Homo sapiens: one gene and its partner. The protein of the gene in region 2 purifies or fractionates together with the protein of the main gene of each other region. This does not show direct contact. Each region holds a gene or a part of one and is shown on either strand. Other genes may lie near its edges. The genes, in order: MYLK2 and TRIM49.

Region 1 (3,235 bases), on a different chromosome or scaffold from region 2:
AACCTGGGAGGCAGAGGTTGCAGTGGGCCGAGATCACGCCATTGTACCCCAGCCTGGGTGACAGAGCAAGACTGTATTGAAAGAAAGAAAAAAAGATAGAAAATGCCCCATCTCTCACCAAAAGTAACTCCACAAAGACTGAGATCTTTGTCTCTTTTGTCCACTCCTATATCCCAATGCCTAGAAGTAGTAGATGCTCAAGAAATATTTGAAAAATGAAGGAGGGAAGCCAGAGCCCCAGATGGGTGGGGCTGGGTGGAAGGCCGGGTAGAGGTCTCCACTCTAGGACAGGAGCCAGCCCAGGGCAAAAACAGAAAAGTCAACCCTGTCTTCCGGACAGGGCCCAGCCTGGTCAACAGAACCTGCCAAGGCAGGGACGGTGGAGGCTGGGATCTGGCACCAGGAGCTCTTCCCACTAGCAAGCCCTCCCTCCCCACCCTGAATCCAGCGGTACCTTCCAGCGCCTCTTCATGAGGTATTTCTTAAGCAAGATCTGGGACTTAAGGCGTCGGTTACAGCGTTTGGCTTTCTCCGCCAGGTTGTTGAGCCAGGGATGGGCGAGACACTGGGCAGCGTTCATCCGGGCCCTGGGGGAGAGGCAGCATGGTGACGGTGGGCTGCATGCTCGTGAGGCCCCAGGGGCTCAGCTGGCCTCTCTACCTGGCTCCCGCCCTGCCAGCACTCAGACACACTAAGCTTGCACACATACAGTTCAGGTTCTGGGGTGAGCCTCACCTCTGGTCCTTGACGATGAGGTTGGAGACAAAGTCTTTGGCCTCGTCTGATACGGCCTCAAAGGTCTCTTCATCAAAGTACCAGTTGCCAGATAGAACGTTGTTTAGGGTCTCTGTGTCATCATCTCCCAGGAAGGGGGAGAGGCCGCTCAGCCTAGAGGGAGGGGATAGCAGGGGGCAGGGAGGTGAGATTGGAGGTGCTGAGTCACCTTCAGAGGGGTAGGGAACAGGGGCAGATCCTAGGAGGCAGCACCGTGTGCTGAAAAGACCCCCAGCCTCTCGTGGGACAGACCTGGGTTTGAATCTGGCTGGGTGACTTTGGGTAAGTCATCTCCCCTCTCTGAGCCTCACTCTTCTCATCTGTAAAATGGGCATAATCATCCCAGCTTCCTAGGTGGCAGTGATGAGGAATGACGAGTGCAAGGTATGTGGTGAGCACATAGGAAATGTCCACTGCCCCTCTGCCCGCCCCAGGTCATCCGAGATCTGCTGTCCAGATGCTATGCCTTTATAGGGACCTTGGTTTTTCCATCTATGAAATGGGTACCACGTTCCCCTTTCCTGTTCTCCCTAGCACTCCCAACCCCAGCAAACCCCTGACTGAGGGATAGGGGAGGTGGGACCACCTTACCAAGACCCTAGGGCCAATCTTGGCCTCGGCCGCTCGCCCCCATGCCCCACCAACCCCATAAACACGACCCGCCTGGGAGCTCACAGCATGTAGGTGATCACCCCCATACTCCACATGTCTGTCTTATCGGAGATTTGGTCATAATTCACCACCTCAGGTGACAGGAACTCTGGGGTCCCAAAGTTCACCTTCAGCTTCTCGTTGGGGTTATACCTGGGGGTGAGACCAAGGGCTGAGAGCACAGCTCCTGGCCTATACCCATGCCCCCTCCACCCCACCCCTGTCCCCTGCCAACTCAGAGGCTTGTCTTGCCCTCCCCACCCACCCAGGTGGTACCTCCGTGCCAGGCCAAAGTCAATGATCTTCACCAAATGCCCGGTGGTGTTGACACACAGGATGTTCTCTGGCTGAGGAGAAAGGGGGTGGCCTGGGTGGGCCTCTGACCAGCTCACCCTCCCTCTCCCACCAGGCCCGTGCAAACCCCAGGCTCCTTGAGGCAGAGGCCCAAGCTGCCAGAGTGGGCAGCTGCCAGAGACCCTCCAGCCCTGCCTGCTCTGGGCACAGAGAGATCTTGAGGCAAGTCCCCCACGAGGGGCTTATGCGAGGCCTTGAAGCACAGGACCTGCCGTGATGGGTTCAGGTGAGATTTCCCTCCATCTAAGGCCATGAAAGAACACGACATTCTAGCAGTTCTGAGGATGGGGAAACAGAAGCCTGTGGAGAGGAGGCATGACAGCCTGCTATCCCCGCCCCCAGGCTGGGGGGCCAGTGCAGGACCACCACCAGATACATGAAGCTCCAGAGAACAGAGAAAGAAGATGCCAGCTCAGTTCCTGACAGGAAGCCTCTTGGGAACACGGGGCTTCACACTACTCCAGGGTCACTGGAAGATGCGCTACTCTTGTCTCCCCAGTTAGTGAGGATGATGAGCTACAAAACATCAGGCCCAGTCCACTCACTTTCTCACTTTAGCTCCCCAGTCCTTCCCAAAGATCTAGGAGGCACACACTGTTATCTTGAGATGAAACTGTGACATTGAGATACTATTACCATCCATTCCCATTTGGCAGCTGAGAAAGCTGAGGCTCAGACACAGAAGTGACTCGGCCACAGTTGCCCAGCAAGTAAGCGACGGAGCCAGGAAATGAACGCATGACTGACTCCAGCACTGGCCTTGTGATGTTCCGCTACCACCACTGATCCTGCACTCTGGGGTGAATATAACACTACAGGGTTGGCTCTTCCAGGCCAGGGATTGTCTTCTCCTGGCCTCCTGGGTCCCACCCTCAGGGTCTAACAAAGGCACCCAGTAGGGGCTCAGCCAAGTTAACACATGGATGACGTTACTGTAAGCCCAGTTCCTCTCCACTCTGGGCCTCTGTTTCCTCTTCCTATCACACAAGGACACAGGACTAATCTGAGGTTGCAGGGTATAAACATTTTTAAGTTAACAATGGTTCAAAGGCAGGAGATTCTGCACAAAAACCCTGAATTCCAGCAGCTCCTGAAACACCGGAAGCCCTGGCCACATGGGCCATATGCCTTGGAACAAGTTGCCACTAACAGCCTGAGATGAGACAAATGTCCTCCAACTCTCCCATGGTCGCCACCACCCCCTGATCCCTCCCATTCAACATGTATTTGTTATTTGTCTGGGCTCTGTGGGCATTTGACTCAAGTCCCCTAAGGAGACGCTTTCTGAAGGCACTCTTAAAACTGATAGATTCACTCAGAGCAGATACTAATGATTTTAATAGTTTGGCCTGGTGTCCCACAAAACAGGAAAGAAAAGAAGGGTCCCAGGGTACAAGCATTTGGGGAAATGAAGCAGACTCAAATTTCCTTTCAGAGATTCTCCATCTACACACAG
Region 2 (3,821 bases):
CTCAAAAAAAAAAAACAAAAAAAAACTAAAAACACCTGACACATTTCTCAGAACATACATCTGTCCACAAGCTATACATGATTCTACATGGGACAGAATTCATCAGGAAAATTAATTTGCTTGATTATGGAGTCTAGAGAGTTCCAATATAGGCTGTCTCTAAGCTGGTGTCCTGAGAATACCGGTATCCTGGCTAAGCTCAAGTCTGAAAGGTTCAGAACAAGTTTCAGGAGAGAGACGGAGGAAGTTGCCTTTTTTCTGCCTTTTTCTTTATATCTGAGGTGTCAGCTGATTGGATGGTGCCCACACACATTGAGAGATGAGGCTCCCACTCAGCTCACCAGCTCACATGTCTCTCTCCTCTAGAAACACCTTCACAGACTCACCCACAAACAATGCTTCACTAGTTCCCTAGGTGTTGGTTAATCCAGTCAGACTGATACCTAAAATTCACCATCACACTATGGAAATATAATTACACCTCTCTGAGTTTAACAAAAACCTCCTATATGTTAGTTCAGAGCTTGCACAGCCCTAGGGGAAGTTAATTTAATCCGCAAGAAAATAAAAAGACCCAATATCTTTAATAATTTTTCTTTTCCCTACTAGTGAAACTTGATTAGTTTAATTGCAGTCTTTTTCTTTGTTTATTTGGTTGGTTGGCTTTTTTTTAAATTTTGTTTTGATTTGGGTCTTTGTTTTTAATTTAATTTAATTTTAAGTCCTGGGATAACTGCAGGACTTGCAGGCTTGTTATGTAGGTAAACTTGTGCCATGGTGGTTTGCTGCCCGGCTTTTGTGACTCTCTATAAAAATATGTCATAGAACCATCTTCTCATATTTCTTTGGCCATCTTCTCATATTTCTTTGGCCCGGGTAGTTTTTTCCCTCCCACTCTTTCACAGTCATTCATCAGTTATTGAAAGAAGAATAGGGACAACTATGATTTATTCTGACCACTTAGAATCAAAACCCAATTTCCAGATCTATGTTCAGAAAATGGGTAGTTGAATAGGTTTGTATTATGCTACAGACAGGAACTAGGAGTAGAAGGGACTGTGAGTCCTCTGGTTAGTAATATCTGTTAGAAAGCCAGGAGACTCCCTCTAAGTGTAAATTTTTAAGTTTGTAACAGAAGAAATAGTTTGTTGTACTTTAATGAACACTGTCAAGAGAAGAAAATATAACTATCACATATCTCCACATGTTTAGAAGGTTTTCATCAACCCAGGCCCCAAAATGACATGTTTCTCTTTGTTCCTCAGAAACATGAATTCTGGAATCTTACAGGTCTTTCAGGGGGAACTCATCTGCCCCCTGTGCATGAACTACTTCATAGACCCGGTCACCATAGACTGTGGGCACAGCTTTTGCAGGCCTTGTTTCTACCTCAACTGGCAAGACATCCCATTTCTTGTCCAGTGCTCTGAATGCACAAAGTCAACCGAGCAGATAAACCTCAAAACCAACATTCATTTGAAGAAGATGGCTTCTCTTGCCAGAAAAGTCAGTCTCTGGCTATTCCTGAGCTCTGAGGAGCAAATGTGTGGCACTCACAGGGAGACAAAGAAGATATTCTGTGAAGTGGACAGGAGCCTGCTCTGTTTGCTGTGCTCCAGCTCTCAGGAGCACCGGTATCACAGACACCGTCCCATTGAGTGGGCTGCTGAGGAACACCGGGTAAGTGATGGCTCTGAAGATCGATTTCTGTAAAGGAAGCATAAAATTCCTGTGGGTCTATTTTCTTGGAGATTGGATAAAGCCAACTCTGAGTCCCTTTAAGCAGCTCTGTTTGGGCTTTCTTAGCTTCCAACCTCTGGGCTTTGACAAACATGAAGGGAAACAAAGGAAATGCCATTTACTAGGGGCTTATTTGTCTCTCATTCTGGGCCCCCTCCCTATGTCATGGTCTGCACTGGTGCTTCAATTTATGGCTCTTTTGCAGGAGAAGCTTTTACAGAAAATGCAGTCTTTGTGGGAAAAAGCTTGTGAAAATCACAGAAACCTGAATGTGGAAACCACCAGAACCAGATGCTGGAAGGTTAGTCCTGTACTACTCTACCTTCTCCAGGAACTTATGGTGGGCAAATGGGTGACTCTTAAAATAGGAACTTGATATCAAACTGTAATGTTTCTGGGATACAGTAAAAAAAAAAAGGCGAGAGAAAACACTGAGAAAAAGTGGCCTCATTTTTATATAGAATAGTATGCCTGTTAGGTAGGATTTCTAAGAAAACTACTGATGTCACCCAAAGCATGCTGGTTTGTTTCATACAAACCTATAGTTATACACCAACAGATCCAAGAAACTGGGCCATCTCAAAGCATTCTATATTTGCTGGTTGGATAAATGCTAGGCAAAAGGGTTATTTGGCAGTCATGGAATGCTCAACTGAAACTTCTGAGTGTCGGTCAGCATTAATCTGAATGCTAGTGTGCAAGTAGTATTTGGAATTGCATGGAAAATTTGAGGCAGAAAAAGTGACAGGGCAAATCTAGGGAAACCATGAAATTAAGAATCTCAACTAATTAATATTGAATAATACATAACATACGATGAGAAAAGCGGTGAGAAATACGGATTTGTGTCTTGAGGGAGACATGTAAACATGCCAGAAATATGGGAACTAGTATCTAAACATAAGGAGAACTCTGAGGACTTCAGAAAAACATTAAAATAATTTTCTCTTCGTGGATGTATATTTTGAGGGTATGATAGCTAAGATTAGTTTGTTGAAAAGTATTTCATGAGAACCTAGTCTATGTTGAATATTAAATTAGAAAATATACTAGTAAAGAAGAAAGGAAGCACCTTTGTCCTCACAAATCATACAATCCAAATAAGAGAGTCAAATTGTCAATACACAAATATATGCAATACATGATGTATTTGAGTGTGGTAGGTTTTTGTTGGAGAATAATCAAGCAGGGAAGTAGAAAAGGACAATAGAGGCCAGAAACTGGAGATTAGTGTTTGAGTTTTAAATAGGGTGGTCAGAAAAAAGACTCACTGAAAAATTCAAATTGAAACAAAGTTTTGAAGAGGAGGGGGAACACAAATGTGTGTGTGGATATATATGTGGACCATGAGTGTGTATATGTATGTATGTGTGTGTGGTTGTGTGTATATATGTATGTATGTATGTATGTATGTATGTGTGTGTGTTTGTATACATATATATGTAATTCTAGTTGGAGAGAACAGCATATGCAGTAATTTTGAGTTTGTGTATATTTGGAGGCCGGAAGAACCACAAAGAAGTCTATGTTTCAGACTGGGATGACTTAGAAAAAGAATAGAAGGAAATGAATTCAGGGAGACAAAGATGGCCAAATCATAAATGCAGCCTTATTAGGATAGGTTTTGCTGAGCGAAATGCACTTAGCTGGACATGCTAGTCTAAGGTCATTTTCATATAATGAGTTTAAGCAACTTGGTGCATATCTCAGAAATAGAAAGAATTGTTTCCTTTCTAGTAACTATAGCCCTATACTCCAACTCTCAAGCATGAACTGTTCTTACTTTGCCATAAATATGGGTTGGAATAGAGAAATTCAAATTGTGTTTTTTTGTTTTCAACTATCTTAGAAAACACATTATCTTGAATAAATTTAACGTAATTGGTCAGATACAGCTATGTTGATCTTTATGCAGAAAAAAGGAAAGGAACAAAATTTGTAGATTCTAAGAACTGGCAAGACAGAAGTTTGAACTATTGGACGTTCGAGAGACAAAAGGAATCAGTGAGATTTAATAGGAGATGGATATATACATTTCTCTTTTGACTAACCCATTATCACTGCAGGATTATGTGAATTTA

What was found.
Region 1: the proteins of TRIM49 (region 2) and MYLK2 purify together in Homo sapiens (affinity purification with mass spectrometry; one large-scale study listed by BioGRID and IntAct). This does not show direct contact.

Annotation. Positions count from the first base shown.
Region 1 is NC_000020.11:31,829,356-31,832,590, reverse strand, and holds part of MYLK2 (myosin light chain kinase 2, skeletal/cardiac muscle), read right to left. Parts: intron 1,773-3,235; coding exon 1,702-1,772; intron 1,579-1,701; coding exon 1,450-1,578; intron 889-1,449; coding exon 736-888; intron 588-735; coding exon 455-587; intron 1-454. UniProt on the Homo sapiens protein: Implicated in the level of global muscle contraction and cardiac function. Phosphorylates a specific serine in the N-terminus of a myosin light chain.
Region 2 is NC_000011.10:89,801,918-89,805,738, reverse strand, and holds part of TRIM49 (tripartite motif-containing protein 49), read left to right. Parts: intron 1-1,265; 5' UTR 1,266-1,269; coding exon 1,270-1,680; intron 1,681-1,945; coding exon 1,946-2,041; intron 2,042-3,806; coding exon 3,807-3,821.